Linked DNA regions of Homo sapiens: region 2 is linked to region 1. Evidence: fine-mapped QTL for protein levels in blood plasma. A gene starts in region 1. The other region holds a variant in brackets. All regions are shown on one strand. Distances are between the middles of the regions.

Evidence for each region. PIP is the chance, under the fine-mapping model, that this variant and not a neighbour inherited with it causes the effect. Protein levels are from antibody-based Olink assays in UK Biobank. Linkage for the fine-mapping came from a reference panel and not from the study's own genotypes, which makes the PIPs less certain.
Region 2: its variant is fine-mapped to the plasma level of the VASH1 protein (UK Biobank, PIP above 0.99).

What each region holds. Positions count from the first base shown.
Region 1 is chr14:76,755,865-76,765,754 of GRCh38, reverse strand. VASH1 (vasohibin 1) reads right to left here and starts at 4,287. Exons shown (of 7, transcript NM_014909.5): 1 at 2,625-4,287. The coding sequence starts at 2,933. RefSeq lists silencers at 3,761-4,030, 4,131-4,320.
Region 2 is chr14:76,710,940-76,720,829 of GRCh38, reverse strand. All of the region lies in intron 1 of LOC105370577 (a long non-coding RNA gene), which reads left to right. Among named protein-coding and RNA genes, the nearest start is that of VASH1, 46 kb to the left of the region's middle. RefSeq lists an enhancer at 171-330. The variant A/C (reference allele first, on the strand shown) is at 5,741.

The DNA.
Region 1 (9,890 bases):
TGCAGATTCCCATGTGTTCCCAAGTCTTCTTATTTTCTGAAAAGATGCCAAAACTCTGGATCTTTATGTGAGAAATCTCCCAATTTTCCCAACAAAACACTTCTTGAGCCCCACACTGTGTGGCCGCTGTAGGGAATGACCCTGTGCCAGCTCCAGTGGCATGGCCCCTAGGGATGGTAAGGGCGGGGTCAGCCCACCCTGCCACTGGCACCCTGGCACCCAGGCACCCAACCCACGCTGCTTCTCTCCAAGGCCTCCTGGACTCCACTGCACTCCCAGACTCTAAGGGTACCTTTCTACTCAGAGCCCAGGTAGAGGAGGGACCTCATGCAGACTCATGCGATTTATCTGAGATCTGTGGTTTGAAGAGGGGGAGGTTCAAATTTTTCCAAACCTCTCACAAAATTCCTTCTACCCTAGCGATGGAAGTCTAGGGGTCTGTCACAACACAGCCCCCACCCCTAGACTTCCTTCATCCGTGTCTTTCCTGTACATGAGGACTGAAGATGACAGAATGACATTACAGACCAGTTACTAGTGAGCTCACTATTTCTTTTTTAGTTCCCAGGAGTGGTGGCAGTTCTGCAGGGAACCATTCACACTCTTTTATGGCCTGATTTAGACATAAGCAAGATGGCTGGAGAGCTGCCCGACTTGTTCACGTGGGAGCAGGGTGTGACTCTGGCCTCATCGGGACAAATGATCTGAGCAAAACCCAGTCTTGCCGCTTGATAAAGCACATAAGTAAAGGTGATGGATGTCTGGCCGGGCGTGGTGGTTCACGCCTGTAATCCCAGCACTTTGGGAGGCTGAGGTGGGTGGATTACCTGAGGTCTGGAGTTTGAGACCAGCCTGGCCAAAATGTTGAAAATGAAACCCCATCTCTACCAAAAATACAAAAATTAGCCAGGTGTGGTGGTAGGTGCCTACAATCCCAGATACTCAGGAGGCTGAGGCAGGAGAATCACTTGAACCAGGGAGGTGGAGGCTGCAGTGAGCCAAGATCATGCCACTGCACTCCAGCCTGGTGGAAAGAGTGAGACTCCATCTCAAAAAAAAAAAAAAAAGGTAACTGATATCCAATAACCAGGTACTGGTTTGGGGCTTTACAGTTTGTTAAATACTTTAACACACAGTCTCTCATTTCTTCCCCACAATCAACCTCATCTTATTGATAAGAAAACTGCATCTCAAATAGGTGGAAGAGGCCATATAGATAAGCAGGTGACCCCTACCAATGTCAATATCCTTTGACGCAATACTTTCGCTTTCAGAATTTTTCCCAAGGAAATAATCAGAGATGAACCCCAAAATTTATATTTTAGAATGTTCACCATAGTATTCATTTTAGGAATAAAACTGGAAACAACATCCAACTCTAGGGGATTAGCTAAATAAATATTAAGTCAGTGCAGAGCACATTTATGCGGCCATTCCAAATCAATCTACATTTTGTTTCCCCTGGAAACATTAGGCAGTATTTAAACCTTCAACCTTTGATTCTCTTTTTCCCAGAAGACACTTTCTGATGGCTGTACCAATAACTTGGTAAAAACAAAACGGGCCACTTGTCCTCATGTCTAATTCACACTAACTTCCATTCTTCCTAGCCCCCTTCCTTCCAACCTGGGCAGGCAGGGCTAAGCACTGGGCTCTGAACTCAGTCCAAAGGGCTCTTTTTTGGAGATTTCAGGCCTCTGCATTTGGCAAAGTGCCTCCTAGTCTTGATCATGTTTTTTTTTTTTTTAATATCTGGCATGTATTTCCATATAGCAGCGTACAGCACAGAAACTCTCAAATACCCTTTCATTCAGCAAACACACACACTAGTGCCTGTTCTGTGCCAGGCACACAGGAGGCCTTGGGAAGACAAAGATGAATGAGATACAGCCTCTGTTTTCGTTGGTGACACAACTGAAGTATAGCTGTCATGGAGGAGGAGTTACAGCCAACACAGAAAAATTATTTCATTTTATGCTTCTCCATAAGACCTCTTCTAATGTGCTTGAATCTACTGTCCAACAGAGAAGAGGACCTGGACACTTCCCTCCACCACCACCCCCCGCCCTTCTCCTGAAGACCTGAAATTGAATCTCAGTTCTGCCACTTACTGGCTGTGGGATCTTGAGTTCCTACTTGAGTTTTCAGCTTTCTCATCTGTAAAATGGGAATCCAAACTGTACTTACGTCACAAGGCTGTTGGGAGAATTCAATGACATAATGCACGAAAATATTTTCTCAACATATGAAGCCCTGCATCTCCTTAGTCATTCATTACATTTGTCTGCTCACAGTTCTCTGGCTTGGCAAGTGTCATCAAGCAAATGAGACGTCAAGCCATCCTACTGTGTTTGTTAGTTCCATCTGCTGCTGTCCCCTCCTGTAAAACGTGGACATTTTAAAAGACAGCGGGGAGGGCCTCCTGGAGACAATGTATGTGAGCCTCCCTCCTAGAATGGCAGTGAGAGAAAGTTCTCCTAGACAGGTATGATATCACTGCATTTTAAAGATCTTACCGAGCCAGTGGTCCCCTGCCCCGTGGGAGGAGAGTGTGGCTTCACTCTTGGCCCCAAGGTCACTAAAACCTAGACTGTGCTATCACCCCCCTGACCCGTGTGTCTCACCTTGGGCAGGTCTGTGGCCCCACGGATCCGTTGCGCCACCTTCTCTCCATCGGGGTGGATCTTGGCCACGTGTTTCCACATCCTTTCCCAGGTGGCCTCATCCACAGGTAGCCCACCCCGGTTGACAAAGAAGGGGACGCCTCCGTCTCGCAGGTCCTCTTCCCCTTCCTCTTCTGGCTCCTCATCTCTCTGGGCTGAGGTTCCTTCGCTGGTCTCCAAACGCCTGACCCCAGAGGGGGCGGTGGCCGCAGCGGACGTTGGAGTGGCACCGCTGCTGCCACCCCCAGCCACCTTCTTCCCCCCTGGCATCCCTAAATCTTCGAGGGGGGTGGTGGAGGCGGGAAAACAACTGGCTCACAAGAGGCCTCCCACACACCGGCTGCAGAGATAACACATGGCCAGAGTGCAAGGCGCCTTTAAGAAATCAGGGCGTGGCTCCTGTACAATAAAATACGACTTGATAAAAAAAATCAGTGCAATAAGGTGAATTAGGGTCCGAGGGGGTGGGTTGTCTGGGGTCAGCCTTGGAGGCCTTGTTCTGTTTGAAAAACGGAATAAAGAGAACACACCCCAACTTGGCAGCCGTCACAAAGCACCCCCATCTAACTGCGAGAACAATGACGGGCAGCAGTGAGGGCTGGCAGAGCGGAGAAAAGTCGGAGGGAAACTGAGGCCAGACAGCTCGGACCAGCGGCTGCAGAAAGGACAGAGTCAAGGCACGGGTGCCCACTGGGCGCCCTGGGTCTCAGTTTCGGAGGGAACAAAATCCCCTACACAACTCTCGCACGCTCACATCTGCGCGCGCCCCAAGGAAGACCGAGGCGACTCCCGGCCGCGCGAGCTCGGAACCAAGACCCCCGGGCGGGAGAGCGGCGCTGGGGGGCGATTTCTCCGACGCGACGAGACAAGTCCGGGAGCCAAGACTCGCAGCTGGCCGGGAGCGGGGAGGGGGCGCGCGCCGACGCGCACATTCCCCGCCTGCGGCCAACTCCCTGCACAAAGTGGGCTTTGTCTGGGTCCCCTGTCCCCTCGTCCCCAGAAACAGCGGCGGAGTCCCCAGAAAGGGAGCGGGCGCGGCGGGGAGGCGAAGGCTGCGAGCCCCGAGGCCCAGCGGGTCCCCACTCGGGCGCGTCTCAGCGGGAGGACGGCTGGCACCTGGCGCCGCGCTGCACCAGCCGAGCCATCGCAGGGCACGGGGCCCGCGGCTCAGCGGGACCGGCTCGGGCGGCGCGCAGGGGCCAGGCTGAGGTCACTGAGCGGCGGGCTGCGGCCGCGGGGTCGCTGCCTGGGACTGGCTGCAGCATGGGCGGTGGCGCGGCCCGGGCGGGCGGAGGATGCTCCGTGGCTGTTCGCTCGGGCTGCAGCTGCCCTGGCTGAGGGTGGAGGAAGGACCGCGGGGCGGGGACCGCAAGCCCGGAGGCTCGCGCAGCCTCGGCCGGCGGATGTAGCTGGAGGCGAGTGACGAAGCCGGGCGAGCGCGCGCTGCGCTGGTGCCTGGGGAGCAGCCCGCCAACGCGGAGCCCGCCAACGAGAAGCCCACCAGCCGATCGCTGCTCGGCGAAGCTGGGGCCGCCGCTGCTGCAGCCCCGCCGCCCCTGGGCCCCGCTGCCGCCGACCACGTCCCCTGCCAGCCAGCCGCCCACCAGGCTCGACTACGGCCCGCGCCGCGCATGCGCTCCGTCCCCCCCTTAAAGGGCCAGCGCCTTCGCGCCCAGTCCTCCGCCCCCCGCGGCGGTGCCTCTGTCCCAAGTTACCCCAAGGACGCCGGTGGGCATTCGCTCCCTCCTCACCCAGCTGTCAGGGCGCCGCGAAGCCGGTGCGAAGCTGCGGAGGACGTTTTCAACGTGCCAGAGGGAGCGCAAACTCCATGGAGATTCCTAGCGCAGAAGGAATTCCTGCGGTCGGGAATTTCTTGAAAAAGATTCTTCGCAGGGGCCCTGAGCCGGTAGGACCGAGAGCACTGGCCTGGAAGACTGGGATTCTAGACCGGATTCAGTGCCTGTGTTGCTTTGGGACGTTCAGCAGTTCCCTTCCCTCTGTAGGCCTCAGTTTCCCCATATCCCAGCCGAGGTGGTCACAGTGAGTGAGCGCAGAGTCCCTCCCAGCGCGCACAGTTCTTAGAGGAGGACATCTAGGGATTGAGACGGGGGGTCACTATCTCTGGAAACGAAAAGGGTTAAAAGTCACCCTGTTTTATTCGATTGCCTGCACTGGTGGGAATGGGGTGCGCAGAGCTCACCCCTAGACCATCTGCCTAGACCGGGCTTTGGACGCTCTGGACCCCGCGGACCAGGGTGGGACCGCGACGTGGGCGTGGGAGGCAATGCTTGGGGAGGGTCCGCTGGCCTAGAGGAAGGTGAAAGTACAACCAGCTGTGGTGCGTGGTTGGACACTGGACGCACCCTCCGCCTCCCTCATGCCATAGAGTTGTAAATGGTGGGAAAGGCACTATCTCTAGGCTGAAGCCAAGAACTTTAGGAAGAGACGGCCGAGTGTGTGCTTTAAGATGCTCCCCCTCTCCCCTGCCTGTAGTTAGCATGAATCACAGTCTTGTGGGAGAATGCAGATTCCTTGGCCTTAGCCGGCAGATTCAGATTCCTTAGTTGTGGGGTCGTTGCATTTCTTGACAAGCTGAGGTTACTACACAAGGGCTGGGTTAAAGGCCTTAGAGAGACCCCAGGGCCTCAGTGGTTTCACATCTGTTCTCTAAAGCTGTCCCTAGTATCTGAACTTTCTGGGTACCCTGTGCTCCCGTAGCAACCTCTTACTACCTCCAGGGTCAGAAACCAAGGGTTATCAGTGATGGGAAGGATTGCAAGACTCCAAGAAAGTTAGTTCAGCCTGGATCTTCTTAAACTCACTAAGGCAAGAAGACTCCAAGCGTAGAAAAATCACTAGGGATCAACAACTATCACCCTGTATTGTATAAACCAAGTCTCAGAGGGTAATTTCCCCAAACTCACACAGCTAGTAAGTGGCAGAGCTAGAATGTGAACAGAAGTCTTACTTCTTCAGACACTTGTTTTTCACTCTATACATTGCTTCTTGTGTTAGCCAAGTGGTGCTGGTTTTAAAATTGGCTTGCAAGCTCTTGACCATTCTTTTCAAAAGATGGGATCTAATTCCTTTCCCCCTGAATGTGGGATGTACTTGGTGACTGGTGTCTAATGAATAAAGTGTGATGAAAGTGAAGCTGTATGACTCTTAAGACCAGGCCATAAAAAGGAGACAGCTTCTTCTTGGTTCCTCAGAAGAAACCAGCTACCATGTTGTGAAGAAGCCCAAGCCACATGGTGAGGCCACATGAGGGTGTTCTCGCTGACAGCTGCTGCTGGGCTCTCAGCCAACAGCCAGAGTCAATCACCAGATCATGGCAAACCGAGACTTCAGGTCTTGCCAGCCCTCGGCCTTTAAGTCTTAGAGTTGAGGTCCCAGACATGGAGCAGAGAACAACCAGCCCTGCTGTGCCCTGTCTGACTTTCTGTCCCACAGAAATTGAGAGAGGATAAGTGACTATTCTCGTTTTAAGCTGCTAAGTTTTGGACTAACTTGTTACGCAGCATGAGATAATACCATGTGTTTTCTGAAATGACAAATAAAATAGATGTAGGGTATTCATTCAAAGAGTAAGTACTCATAGAACATCTTCTATGTGTTTGACTCTGTACTGGGCACTGGAGAAGCAGTAGTGAACAAGAGGGACATGGCCTTTGCTCTAGTTGGACTTATGGCCTACTAGTGGAGGAGATAGTTAAGCATGATTTCCATAAGGTGCTCTGCCAGAGGGTTATTCAGGAAGCTGTGGGAGTGCATACCCAGAGCAACTTCCCAATCAGGTGAGGAGCTGGGAAAAGAAGAAATGAGTTGGGTACAAGGTCAGCATGGACTAGGCTAGAGAATTTTCTGGCATGTGTGCATAGAAGTGGAAGAGGGTATGTGTCAGGCAAGGGGGCTTGCAAATAGATTAGAAAATGGTGAAACTGGAAAGAGATGTGTATAACCCAGTCTTATCTAAGCCAAAAGCCCAGAGAGAACAAGTGACTTAACCTGGTATGGCACAACTTTTGAATTGGTCTCAGATCCTGGGTCCTTCATCAAGCCCTCCCATGACTCCCCACACCTATGCCTTGGGAACAACTCCTCCAACAGACACTTGGGTAACTCCTTATTTGGCTCAAAGCTTTCGTGACCGTTATTTTTCTTTTTTTTCTTTTTTTTTTTTTTCCCCTGAGACAGAGTCTCGGTCTGTCACCCAGGCTGGAGTGCAGTGGCTCGATCTCTGCTCACTGCAGCCTCTGCCTCCCAGGTTCAAGTGATTCTCTGCCTCAGTTTCCTGAGTAGCTGGAATTATAGGTGCCTGCCACCATGTCTGTCTAATTTTTGTATTTTTAGTAGAGATGGGGTTTCACCATGTTGGCCAGGCTGGTCTCCAACTCCTGACCTCAAGTGATCTGTCTGCTTCGGCCTCCCAAATTGCTGGGCTTACAGGCGTGAGCCACCGCGCCCGGCCCTCATGACAATTATTCCTTTTGCTGTCTTCACAAAAACCGTGGAAGAGTTAGGATGAGTATGATTTCCATTTTACAGATGAAGAAAGGATGCATAAGAGAAGCTAGGCAAATTACATACCTAGTACAGGAGCAGGCACATCTGAGCTGCTGGGTACAAGTCACTTTCATGATGACAAGGATGACGATAATGACGCCTAACTCATATCATGTGTCACATTTGTTATCGTCACACTCTGGACTAATGGTCTGCAAATGAACGCATGTTGTCTTAGGGCATCAACACTCATATTAATCTGCTCTGACACATTTTCTATTCTTGTGACACAGAAGCTAGAGTGAAATTTCCAGAGAGAAGAGTCTGTTGACTTAGCTTGGATCCTTGGCTAGAGGAGGATGGGGCAATTTCATTAGCCAAGACTACAGGTGGTTGGGGGAGAAGGACTGCCCTAAAGGTAAATGGGGTGCTGTTAGTAAAAGAGGGGCATGGAGGCACACAGGTATAGATGTGTTTATAAAAGGTAGATGTTCTGACTCAACTTTTTGCTGTTTTCATGTTCATAATTTATGAGGTAAAAGAAGAAAAGAAAAGGAGTTTAATCCCAAGAAAGAATCACAGAGCAGAACTGTCCAATAGAAATTTCTGCAATGGGCCAGGCGCAGTGGCTCATGCCTGTAATCCCAGCACTTTGGGAGGCTGAGGGGGGTGAATCACGAGGTCAGGAGTTCAAGACCAGCCTGGCCAATATGGCAAAATCCTGTCTGTACTAAAAACTACAAAAAAATAGCTGGGCGCAGTGGCAAGCACCTGTAATCCCAGCTACTGGGGAGGCTGAGGCAGGAGAATTGCTTGAACTCAAGTGGCAGGGGTTGCAGTGAGCCGAGATTGCATCACTGCACCACAGCCTAGGTGATAGGGTGAGACTCCATCTCAAAAAAAAAAAGAAAAGAAATTTCTGCAATGGTAGCCAGAAGTTCAGTATGGTAGCCAGAAGTCATATGTGTCTATTTAAATTTGAATTTAATTAACATTAAATAGAATTAAAAGTTCAGTTTCTCCAATCACGCTAGCCATATTTCAAGTACTCAGTAGCCATTATGGCTCATAGATACTGTAATGAATAGTACAGATTATAGAACATGTCCATCACTGCAGAAATTTCTTTTCTTTTTCTTTTCTTTTTTTTTTTTTTTGAGATGGAGTCTCACCCTGTCGCCTAGGCTGTGGTGCAGTGATGCAATCTCGGCTCACTGCAACCCCTGCCGCTTGAGTTCAAGCAATTCTCCTGCCTCAGCCTCCCCAGTAGCTGGGATTACAGGCGCTTGCCACTGTGCCCAGCTAATTTTTTGTAATTTTTAGTACAGACAGGATTTTACCATATTGGCCAGGCTGGTCTTGAACTCCTGACCTCGTGATTCACCCCCCTCAACCTCCCAAAGTGCTGGGATTACAGGCGTGAGCCACTGCGCCTGGCCCATTGCAGAAATTTCTATTGGACAGCTCTGCTCTGTGATTCTTTCTTGGGATTAAACTCCTTTTCTTTTCTTCTTTTACCTCATAAATTATGAACATGAAAACAGCAAAAAGTTGAGTCAGAATCTTCATTCATTTACTCAATAAACATATACTAAATATCTACTCTGAATCATACATGGTTGTAGGCACCAGGGATACCTGGCGAGGATCTTGGAGCACTTCTGGTCCAGTGGAGCTTACATTAGGATCACCCCAGGGGCTCTTAAAATTCTTGATCCTCAGTCTGCACCCTGCAGAAATCCTGATGAAACTGGTTTGGAGTGGGGCTTGGTACCCATAGTCTAGAAAAGATCTCCAGGTAATGCGAATGGTAGCTGGGCTTGGAACCACTGAGATCTAGACTGGCCAGTGAAACGATTTGCTTCAGGTCACCTGAAAACCTGAATCTGCCTGGGTCTGACTTCCGCTCTGGGGTTTGCGTGACAAAATCAGAGAGTTTTTCATGGATTTGGCATCTGTCTGAATTGACTGCTAAATTCTTAGAGAACAAGTCTGTTTTTCCTTAATCCAAACAGAATCCAGTTCACTTCAGGTAAAGTGCCAAAAGGACCTCTGGCTTGGGATTCATTTTAAATCACTGCTTTCTCAAACTGTCCGTTTTGTTTCTGGAACTGAATTACTCAGCCAAGTGAGTGAAAGTCTATAAAAATAGCTCCTCTTCACTGAGCCCCGAGTGTAGGTCCGGTGCTTTACCTGCAGAGTTTCATTTAATTCCCAGGTCAATCTCGCAGGGTAGGTATTGCTGACATCAGTTTACAAGTGGGCAAACTGAGATTCAGAGCCATTGAGGATTGTAATTTGTTCAGGGTGGCACAGCTGATATGATAATTTCAGAGTTCATGTTTTTTCCCCTACACCGCTCTGCAGCTACCCCACAGCCGAGAGCGTGGGGCAGCTGGCAGATGGCAGCATTCTACTCTGGCTTCACATAGGAAAGAAAGCTTTGTGCTGGTGAAGCTCCAGACATGATCCGGACAATTGTTACCTGAGCTCAGTGACAGTACTAGGGGCCTGGAGGAAAGGGAGACTTGGGGATAAGACAGATGAGCAGATTTGGAGTTGAGTTCTTTTTGTTGATGGTTATGCCTGGATTCCTTTTATTGAGGGATTTGGAAGAAGCAGCTAAGAGCAATGTGGCGCCTGAAGCAGTTAGTTCTAAGACACCTAGCAATGATGATGCATGCTTGGTATAAGCATTATCTATTCTTGGCCTGGATTCCC
Region 2 (9,890 bases), 45 kb after region 1:
TCACAGCAAACAGTGCTCCTGGGCCCCCTGTGATAGGCCCCAGGGCAAGAGTTAAGGCCCAAAAGGACTGAGGCCTCAGGTGCCGCAATTTCAGAATTAGTTACTCATTTCCTTCCTCTCCTCCGGTCTGATTTTCCCTTCCCCACCAGCCTCCTGCGCTCCTCTCACTTCCCTTTCTCCCCTCCTAAATTCTCCATCCTCTTTTCTGACCTCTTCCTGCCCTCCCCTTCCTCCCTTCCTTCCCTCCTTTGAAAGTCTGGTCCTCTAGAGCTGTGGAAAAGACTGGAATCTGAGCCCTGGCCTGCAGCCAGCAGGGAGCCAGGAGGAGCAGCTGCAAGGTCAGACCAGGGTCACATCAGCTGCTGAGAGAGAGAGGAAGTGAGGCTGCCTGGGCTTCCTGGCCCTCAGGGACAGGCTTACTCCACATGGCCCCTCTCTGCACCCCTGTTCCTGCTGAAAGGTGCCAGGATATGCCACCCCAAAACATACCACTTTGGCATAAGGATTATTTTGAGCTAAAGGCACTTGAAAAACAGCAGATGCAAGAAGGGCATTCTAATCTAGTTTCTTCCTGAAAACAGGAGATACGGACTTTCATTTGAAAGATGCCCTCCCTGTACCAGGAGAAAAGAAACATTCTTTGAGTTACTCAGAAGACACTCTTTGTTTGCTGGGAAGATTGTGGCTTATTTTAAAAGCAAAAGCAGCATCCCTCACCCAGCATCACTTTGCTCAGGGCTGCCTTTTGTTAAGGAGCTCCTTAAAACCAAACTCAGGAGGCATTTTCTTTTTTCTCCTATGACCAGAGTGTGTTGGCAAACAGGCTGCTCCATGCCTAGTGTGGCCACTCCCAGCGCACTGGTCGGGAATGGGAGGGAGGAGACTCTGTCCCCTTGACCCAGTTTTGGGGCGAAATCCAAGAGCCTCCTTGGCTCTGTGCGTCTGCCTCTTTGAGTGTCTGCAGCACCAGCTCTCCACTGGTTGTTTTAGAGTTTCAGGGTCTTAATGATGTCGAGACCGTAATGGTGCCAGGGCATTGGTGCTGGTTATTGGTTCCACAGGTCACTCCTGGGCTGGCCCTCAGTCTTGTCCACATGGCTCTGGGGAGGTATGGGGGTCACTCTGCCGCTTCATGTCACAGAGCCCTCCATGCCCCGTCGAGTCCTGTCCACGCAGGCCTTCTCTCTTGGGTTGCTCCTCCTGAGACCCATCCCTTCTCTGTTCTCATCCTCTCCCCTCCAACACCAGCCCAGGAAAAACCTTTCCTACATTTTGGGTCCTTACCTGTAATCTCCTCTGTTCTTCCCAAATGTTTAGACTTTAGGGATTGGAAGCTGGGAGTTCTTAGACTGCTATCGACTTTCTTTCCTTCCACCACTTTCTTCAGTAAAGGAGCACAGAGCCCAGGATCTGCTTTAAAGGGGCGGAAGGAAAAACGGGGCAAGAATCTCGAAAACGTGGCCCCACTTCTGAGTGCTCGTCACCTGGCACAATACCTGGTACACAGCAAACAATTGTTAAACCAAAAAAAAAAAAAAAAAAGCTGGGCACAGTGGCTCATGCCTGTAATCCCAGCACTTTGGGAGGCCGAGACGGGTGGATCACCTGAGGTCAGGAGTTCGAGACCAGCTTGACCAACATAGAGAAACCCTGTCTCTACTAAAAATACAAAATTAGCTGGGTGTGGTGGCACATGCTTATAATCTCAGCTACTCAGGAGGCTGAGGCAAGAGAATCACTTGAACCCAGGAGGTGGAGGTTGCAGTGAGCGGAGATCATGCCATTGCACTCCAGCCTGGGCAACAAGAGTGAAACTCCATCTCAAAAAAAAAAAAAAAAAAAAAAAAAAAGAAAAGAAAAGAGAAACATGGCAGCAAGAGAATGAATAAATGCAGGCCACCTGGCTCAGAGCCGCAGGACTTGAATTCAGATCCCAGCCCCCTGGCTGACCTCCCTGTGTAAGTTCTACTGACCTAATCCATAAAGGAGGGGAGGGATGAGTTCATCGCTGGGATTCCTTCCAGCCCCCAAACTCAATATTTTGTATCCACATAGGAAAAAGAAAGAATATTTATGCAGTCGTCCCACTGAACTGGAGCAGGGAAGAAACCTGCCTGGATGATTCAGGCTCACATACACAATCATCTCCAAATATGCTTCCCTTCTGTCAAATGCCATCTCCTAAATATCACCAGAGCAACCTGCGGAGAAGGCAAGGCTGAGTTGATTGTTCACCGTGGTAAGGTAGAGTACCCCCTCCACAAAGCCTCAGTAGCTTCCCAAAGTGGGAGGGCAAAGTGATTTTTATTGAGACTTTGAGGCCTGGTTTAAGGTGGCTCTTTCAGTGCAGAGGTGGCATGCTTGATGGGGGTTGCTAAGATCATGATTGGTAGACACAGCAAAGTGAGGATTTCTGGCTGAGGCGTTCAAAGAACCTTGGGGTATAAACTGTCTTCCTATTGAACCTATAAACTGATGCTTCCTGTTGAAGACATGGTGTGTCCTTCAGGAAGTTCCTGGGATGAACAGTAGAGTTATTTACAGCTTTTATCTTCCTGGGCAAGCATTTTCTGGAATAATAGTGAAGTTACTTTGATGAGGACAGTGGAATAGTAAAGTCATGTTAATATAGACAGTGAGCTATGAGTGGTTTGATTCTCATCCCAAGCTGTCTTGGTTCGCTGTTTGAATGACTGTGATGTCCCCTCCACCAAGAAGGCTGACGCCTATGAACATGTGTACTCCCTTTCCCTCTTGGTCCAGCTGGATTTGGCCCATGAAGGCAGGGAGCAGAGTGAGGCTGGAATATTCATTTCTGTTCTCTTTCTGCTGGTATTACCCAGCAAGCAATGGGCTCACTGCCTGATGCACACACAAGCCAATACCATGGCACTGAAAACCTTTATTGGGAATTGACTGGCAAGACAGGAGGCAAGGCTGAAATCTATGTCGCCTAGCTGGTGGGCTGGGGCAGGTTTTATAGGCGAAGGGTAATGAACCATGATCTGATTGGATCTTGCAATGAGGTGATGCTGGGGAGGCATGATCTGACTGGATCCTGCCACGGGGTGACACTAGAGCTCAATCTGATTGGATCCTGGATCCTGCCATGTGCAGTCCACCTCTGAAAGCAGTCCTTGCTCCCGGCTTCCAGCACTTAGGTTCCACTTGTGGTTGCACACTTGGTTCATCTGGGCATGTTCAGGTTACTTGACTTTCAACTTGGGGATCCATGGCAACCAAAAAACAACTCACGACTTTGTTACATAAAAGTTGAACCAGGGCTGGGCACGGTGGCTCACGCCTGTAATCCCAGCTCTTTGGGAGGCCGAGGTGAGCAGATCACGAAGTCAGGAGATCGAGACCATCCTGGCTAACACGGTGAAACCCCGTCTCTATTAAAAGTAAAAAAAATTAGCCAGGTGTGGTGGCAGGTGCCTGTAGTCCCAGCTACTCAGGAGGCTGAGGCAGGAGAATGGTGTGAACCTGGGAGGCGGTGCTTGCAGTGAGCCAAGATTGCGCCACTGCACTCTAGCCTGGGCAACAGAGCGAGACTCTGTCTCAAAAAAAAAAAGAGTTGAACCAGATTGGTCTGGTGTGATTACACTGGGTTGCCCTGGGTTGGTTGCCTCCGCCTGTTTCAGCCCTCAGCTCCTATCACCAGCCTTCTCAATAGCTTCTCTCTTGAGTTGGGGTAACTGCTCCCCGACTTGCCCTTTTATGCCTAAGGGAGCCTAGCTCCTAGTATCCCATGTGGCTCTTTCTCTCATTTCTTATTCCCAATGAGCATGTGTTGCTTTCCTAAAGGCATTTCCATAACATTATACTTTTAAAGTCAACTGTGTGTGAGTATAAATGCTATTGGACATCAGGGGAGAACTCGGAAAAAAAAAATGTTCATTTTTATTGATAAACTTTTTAACTAAGGCAATTTTCAAAGAAAGCTAAAATCATGACATTCCTACAAACATAAAATGGACATGTTAAAATTGTATTTAGTGCATCATTAATGAAGGCTGGTAAGATGTGACAACCGGTTCAAATGAGAAGTCAAAAGAGGCACAAATTTATATGGAGAAAAGCAATGTTGAAGTGTATTTACGAATAGAAGGAAATATATTTACGAATAGAAGGAAACATATTTCAAATAGAAGGAAACTGGCTTTCCTTTGGAAAATAGGAAGTAAATTGAACCACCTCGGGACAGAATGTATTTGCATGCCTGCAAACAGGAATTATTTACATTGCTATCAGTTATCTACAATTTACAGATTTGAAAAATAGCTCAAAGGCAATGAATGGCCCAGAGACCCTAAAGCATCGCACTCAGATAACCTGGAAGGGTATGCTCTAAAGGATACACAGTTTCCCAATGAAGCACACATTTTTTCCTACGTGACATTTATTAAGCAGTTAATACTTGCAGGCAGTGATCCAATCCATGGGGACTGATAGTCTGCTTGGAGATTTAAGACACAAAAGAGCTGAGCCGTCTCCCTCCAGCAGTCTGATTAGTGGAGTGTTTATTATACTTCCTCTCAGTGACATAAAGATACTCCAAATTGAGTTCCATCATCAAGCTTTCCTCTTGAGAAAAACAAAAGTTTCCACTGCTTTCAAAAGTTTGAAAGCCACCAACCCATGTCCAGCAGGTTCATTTTATAGAAGAGAAAATGAAGGCTCAGAGAGGAAATGTGGTCTGCCCTGGGGCGCGCAGCTTGTTAACTCATGTCTGGTCGGAAGATGGGCTTTCAGGGCCGAGAAGGTGCTCCTTTTTGGCATTATTAGGTGACAGAAAGAGCTCCTGGAAGGGAGGATTTAGGAAGCAGGCTGTGACAGATGGTTTTCATCTCCTGTGCTCTGGGAAATCGCTACCACCCTCTAATTGGATGTTGGGAGCTTCAAGCAAACTGGCAATCTACATTGTATCATTGTTCCGTATCCCTAATTATCCCTTGGGATTTGGCTTAAGTGCAGCTTAGAGGATGTTCATTAATAGTGTCGACAGGGACACTCAGCATTTGTAAAATTCTTTACAATAATTGAAGACCTAGCATTGTTCTGGTGTGGTAAGGAAGCATGTTTGCTCCCAGCCGAAAGATGACTTAAGCTAAGAGGGTGGAGACTGGCTGACTTGGGAGTTGTTTTTCTAACGTCCAGGTCTGAACTCACAGTTCTACAATCCTTGTTTTCACCGGCTCAAGGAAGCTCCTTGATGAATTACATGAGTTCAGCTTACTAATGGGCTTACTTCACCAGAGTCAGAGTGATCTGTCCTTGGCATTTCATAACCCACTTCAGTTTCCTATCTCTTGGCCACCGTATTGTCAAAAACCTCATATTCCTGTGGCCATGACCAGTTCCAAAAGAAGCTTTGTCTCCACAGACAGATCGTGGTTCCATCTGGGCCTACCACCAAAAGCCTTGTGATTCCAGATGGAAAAATCCCCACACCCCCCCCCGTTTCCAAAGCAGCCCCCCATCTCGATTGTTTTATCTACAGTCAGCAGCACGAATCCTCCACAATCAGAGTCTCTCCGGGGGTGGAAAGAGTGGCTAATGGGGGATACAGCTCATCTTCAAACCCTGTGCCATGTGAATGGAAAAAAAAAATGCACACATCTGGCTGGGTTAGATAAAGAGGAGGGCTGGGGCAAAGAAGCCGGGAGTGGTGGTGGGGGCTTCCCTCTATCAAAGAAAACATTAAGAAAAAGGCTGCTTTTATTGCAGAGGAAAATTA[A/C]AACTTTACATTGTGACTGGAGCTGTTCAACCATCTACATTTGGCTGGGCACGATGGCTCACGCCTGTAATCCCAGCACTTTGGGAGGTCGAGGCGGACGGATCACCTGAGGTCAGGAGTTTGAGACCAACCTGGCCAACATGGTGCAACCCCATCTCTACTAAAAGTCCAAAAATTAGCTGGTCATGGTGGCAGGCGCCTGTAATCCCAGCTACTCAGGAGGCTGAGGCAGGAGAATCGCTTGAACCCGGGAAGTGGAGGTTGCAGTAGCCAAGATCGTGCCATTGCACTCCAGCCTGGGCAACAAGAGCGAGACTGTCTCAAAAAAAAAAAAAAAAAAATCTACATTTTTGTTGTTGTTGTTTTCAAAAGATATCCTTGAGGAACCCCAAGTATTTGGCTGGAATCCTTTGGTGACAGCCAGTTTCCTTCCAGGAGGTTGGAACAGAGCTGCATGTGTGTACATGTGTTTGGGGGGATACAAGGAATTGAGTGGTTTTCTTTCAATCATAGCCTCACCCTCCTGCCATTTGAGGAAGACGGAGGGAGAAGGACAGGATGGGAGGAGATAATTTCTGAAAAAAATTTTTTTTTTTTTTTGAGTTTCACTCTTGTTGCCCAGGCTGGAGTGCAATGGCGTGATCTTGGCTCACTGGAACCTCTGCCTCCCGGGTTCAAGCGATTCTCCTGCCTCAGCCTCCCAAGTAGCTGGAATTACAGGTGTGCACCACCACGCCTGGCTAATTTTTGTATTATTAGTAGAGACGGAGTTTCACCATGTTGGCCAGGCTGGTCTTGAACTTCTGACCTCAGGTGATCCACCCACCTCAGCCTCCCAAAGTGCTGGGATTACAGGCGTGAGCCACCATGCCTGGCCTGATGATTTCTGAATTTGAGGAATGAAATTTCAGCTGCCAAAGAGCACCTGGAGATGTGTTTCCTCCTCCCACACCCTCTTTCTCTCCCCACAGCCCCTACTTACCCCAGTCCCCAGAACCGCCTCCCCTGGAGGCATCTGGGACATCATTCTCACTACTCATTTCCTCCTTCCTCAGCTACAGGGGAGGCCAGCTTTCTGGTCTTCTGTTGCCCATATTGGACTTTATTTGGTGCTCCAAAGGGAGGTAGAAATTGCAAAGGACTCCCCTGCCCTTGCATATTCTGTAGATTCCCATCGCATGCTTCAAATAAGCCGTGTCCATTCTTCCCCCAGAGCCTTGCCTCTGTACCACCCCAGCTTCCCCCACTTCCTTTTTGCTGAGAACTTTCTCTGTATTCATGAAAGTTCTCCCTAATAGCCTGAATAAAATAATCTCCTTAATTATCCGGGGCATTTCTTTCACCCTGTACTGCCCACACCAGGAGTCTGAAATAGAACCATAAGCACCTTCAGCGTTAAGACAGGGAATTACCTTAAGTGGTTTCAGGAAAGATGTGAGCAGGAGCTACTTAATGGGGTGAAGGTGAGGCTGCCTTGAAGATGAACCCTCCTTTTGGGCAGTGTTTCACTTCAAAACCTCAGAAGCGGTGACCCTAAGGAGATTTTTATTAACACACCTACGAAGCAAACATAAACCCCCCTCTGTGTGCGTGTGTGCACGGATGTGTGCTGGGGGGCAGTGCAGGAGAGGAGGGGGTGCTGGAGAATCTCCAGGTGAAGGGGGATGCAGTTTTGTTCCCATTACAAAGACCCCTTGTCAGCCCGCTGGCCAGGCTGAAAGCGCCGGCCACTTCCCATTCAATGCCAGCTCTCCTAAGTGGGCCGGGTGGCTGTGGCCTCGGTTAGGGCGGTTGTATATTTGCACAGATCTGCCATTTGTCATGTTCCCAGAGGTCTTCAGGACAATGACTTTTGTGGGGGTATGCTGGAGGAAGGTAGCTTTTCAAAATTGGGAACCTTTTCGGCTTGCTAAACGGAAAAGGACAATGGCCTCTTTGTCCCTAGTGTAAGACAGCTGTGGGGAGCCCTAGGAACCCACCAATGGTAACTTTAAAATGCTGCCTTAAAGGTATTGAACAAGTCTGGGTGTGATGGCTCATGCCTGTAATCCCAGCACTTTGGGAGCCCGAGGCGGGAGGATCACTTTAGCCCAGGAGTTCAAGATCAGCCTGGGCAACATGGTGAGACCCCATCTCTACAAAAAATATAAAAAGTAGCCAGGTGTGGTGGTGCACACCGTAATCCCAGCTACTCAGGAGGCTGAGGTGGGAGGATCACTTGAGACTAGGAGGTTGAAGCTGCAGTGAGCTGGTGATTGCACCAGTGTACTCCAGCCTGGGTGACAGAGAGACACCCTGTCTCAAAAAAAAAAAAAAAAAGAGAAAATAAAATTAAAAAAAAAAGATAACAAAATAATAATAGCCACTAGTTTAAAGAAAAACACTACCCATAATTGTGACATTGAAATACAGTATAGTAACTGATTAATGTTTCCATTTTTATATATTAGGTTCCAATCTCACATTTTACAATTGGGGTAGTGCCAATTTATGTCTTTTCACTTAACATTATGCCATATAATCATTTTCTTTTCTTTTCTTTTCTTTTTTTTTTGAGGCAGAGTTTCGCTTTCGTTGCCCAGGCTGGAGTGCAATGGCTTGATCTCGGCTCACCGCAACCTGCACCACCACGCCTGGCTACTTTTTATATTTTTTGTAGAGATGGGGTCTCACCATGTTGCCCAGGCTGATCTTGAACTCCTGGGCTAAAGTGATCCTCCCGCCTCGGGCTCCCAAAGTGCTGGGATTACAGGCATGAGCCATCACACCCGGACTTGTTCAATACCTTTAAGGCAGCATTTTAAATTTACCATTGGTGGGTTCCTAGGGCTCCCCCCAGCTCTCTTACACTAGGGACAAAGAGGCCATTGTCCTTTTCTGTTCAGCCTCCTGGGTTCAAGTGATTCTCTTGCCTCAGCCTCCCGAGTAGCTGGGATTACAAGCATGGGCCACCACGCCCGGCTAATTTTTTTGTATTTTTAGTGGAGATGGGGTTTCTCCACGTTGGTCAGGCTGGTCTCGAATTCCCGACCTCAAGTGATTCACCCACCTTGGCCTCCCAAAGTGCTGAGATTACAAGCATGAGCCACCGTGCCCGGCCCCTAATCATTTTCTTATAATACTATAATATCTAATTCTATTGGGTCAATGGAGCATATTTATTATGGTTGAACCTTTCCTCTGGTGTTAGACATTGTCTTTTAGTCTCTTTTTTCTTTGCTATTGTAGATAATGCTGAAATTAACATCTTTGGATATACAATTCTCTGCTTCTGAAGAATGAAAAGATAAATAACAGAGCTAAGAAAGGGACTGATGAAACTTACAACAGCAGGTCTCAAATTTTTGGTCTCAGGACCCCTTTATGCTCTTAAAAATGATTGACAGCCTCCAAGAGCTTTTGTTCATGTGAGACATTTTTATATTTGCCTTGCTATATTAGAAATTATAGCTGGGAAAATTCAAATATTTATTAATACATGTAACAATAACTGTAAAAATCCATTGCATGTTAACATAAATTACACATTTTTACCAACAATAGCTATATTTTCTAAAACAAAGACATTTGCAGAGTGGTGTTGTTTTATATTTTTGCAAATCTTTTAAATGTTTGGTCTACAGATTCTCATATCTCCTTCATTCCATCTCTTGTGATTTTTTTTTTTTTGAGATGGAGTCTTGCTTTGTCACCCAGGCTAGAGTGCGATGGCGCAATCTCGGCTCACTGCAACCTCTGCCCCCCGGATTCAAGCGATTCTCCTGCCTCAGCCTCCTGAGTAGCTGGGATTACAGGCGCCTGCCACCAAGCCCAGCTACTTTTTGTATTTTTAGTAGAGACAAGGTTTCACTGTATTGGTCAGGCTAGTCTCGAACTCCTGATCTCAGGTGATCCTCCCACCTCAGCCTCCCAAACTGCTGGGATTACAGGTGTGAGCCACCACGCCTCGCTGACATGTTGTTTTAACTGAAGTCTATGAAAAAAACCTGTCCTTGAATAGATACATAATCGGAGAAGGGAGAGGGTACGCTTAGGGGTCCGACCACACTTTGAGAACCCATGTCCTGCAACATTCCTCGTGCTCTACAGGACACTTCTCTTGTATTACTTTTTGCACTTACAGATTTAGATGATAGAGTGAATCCAACGT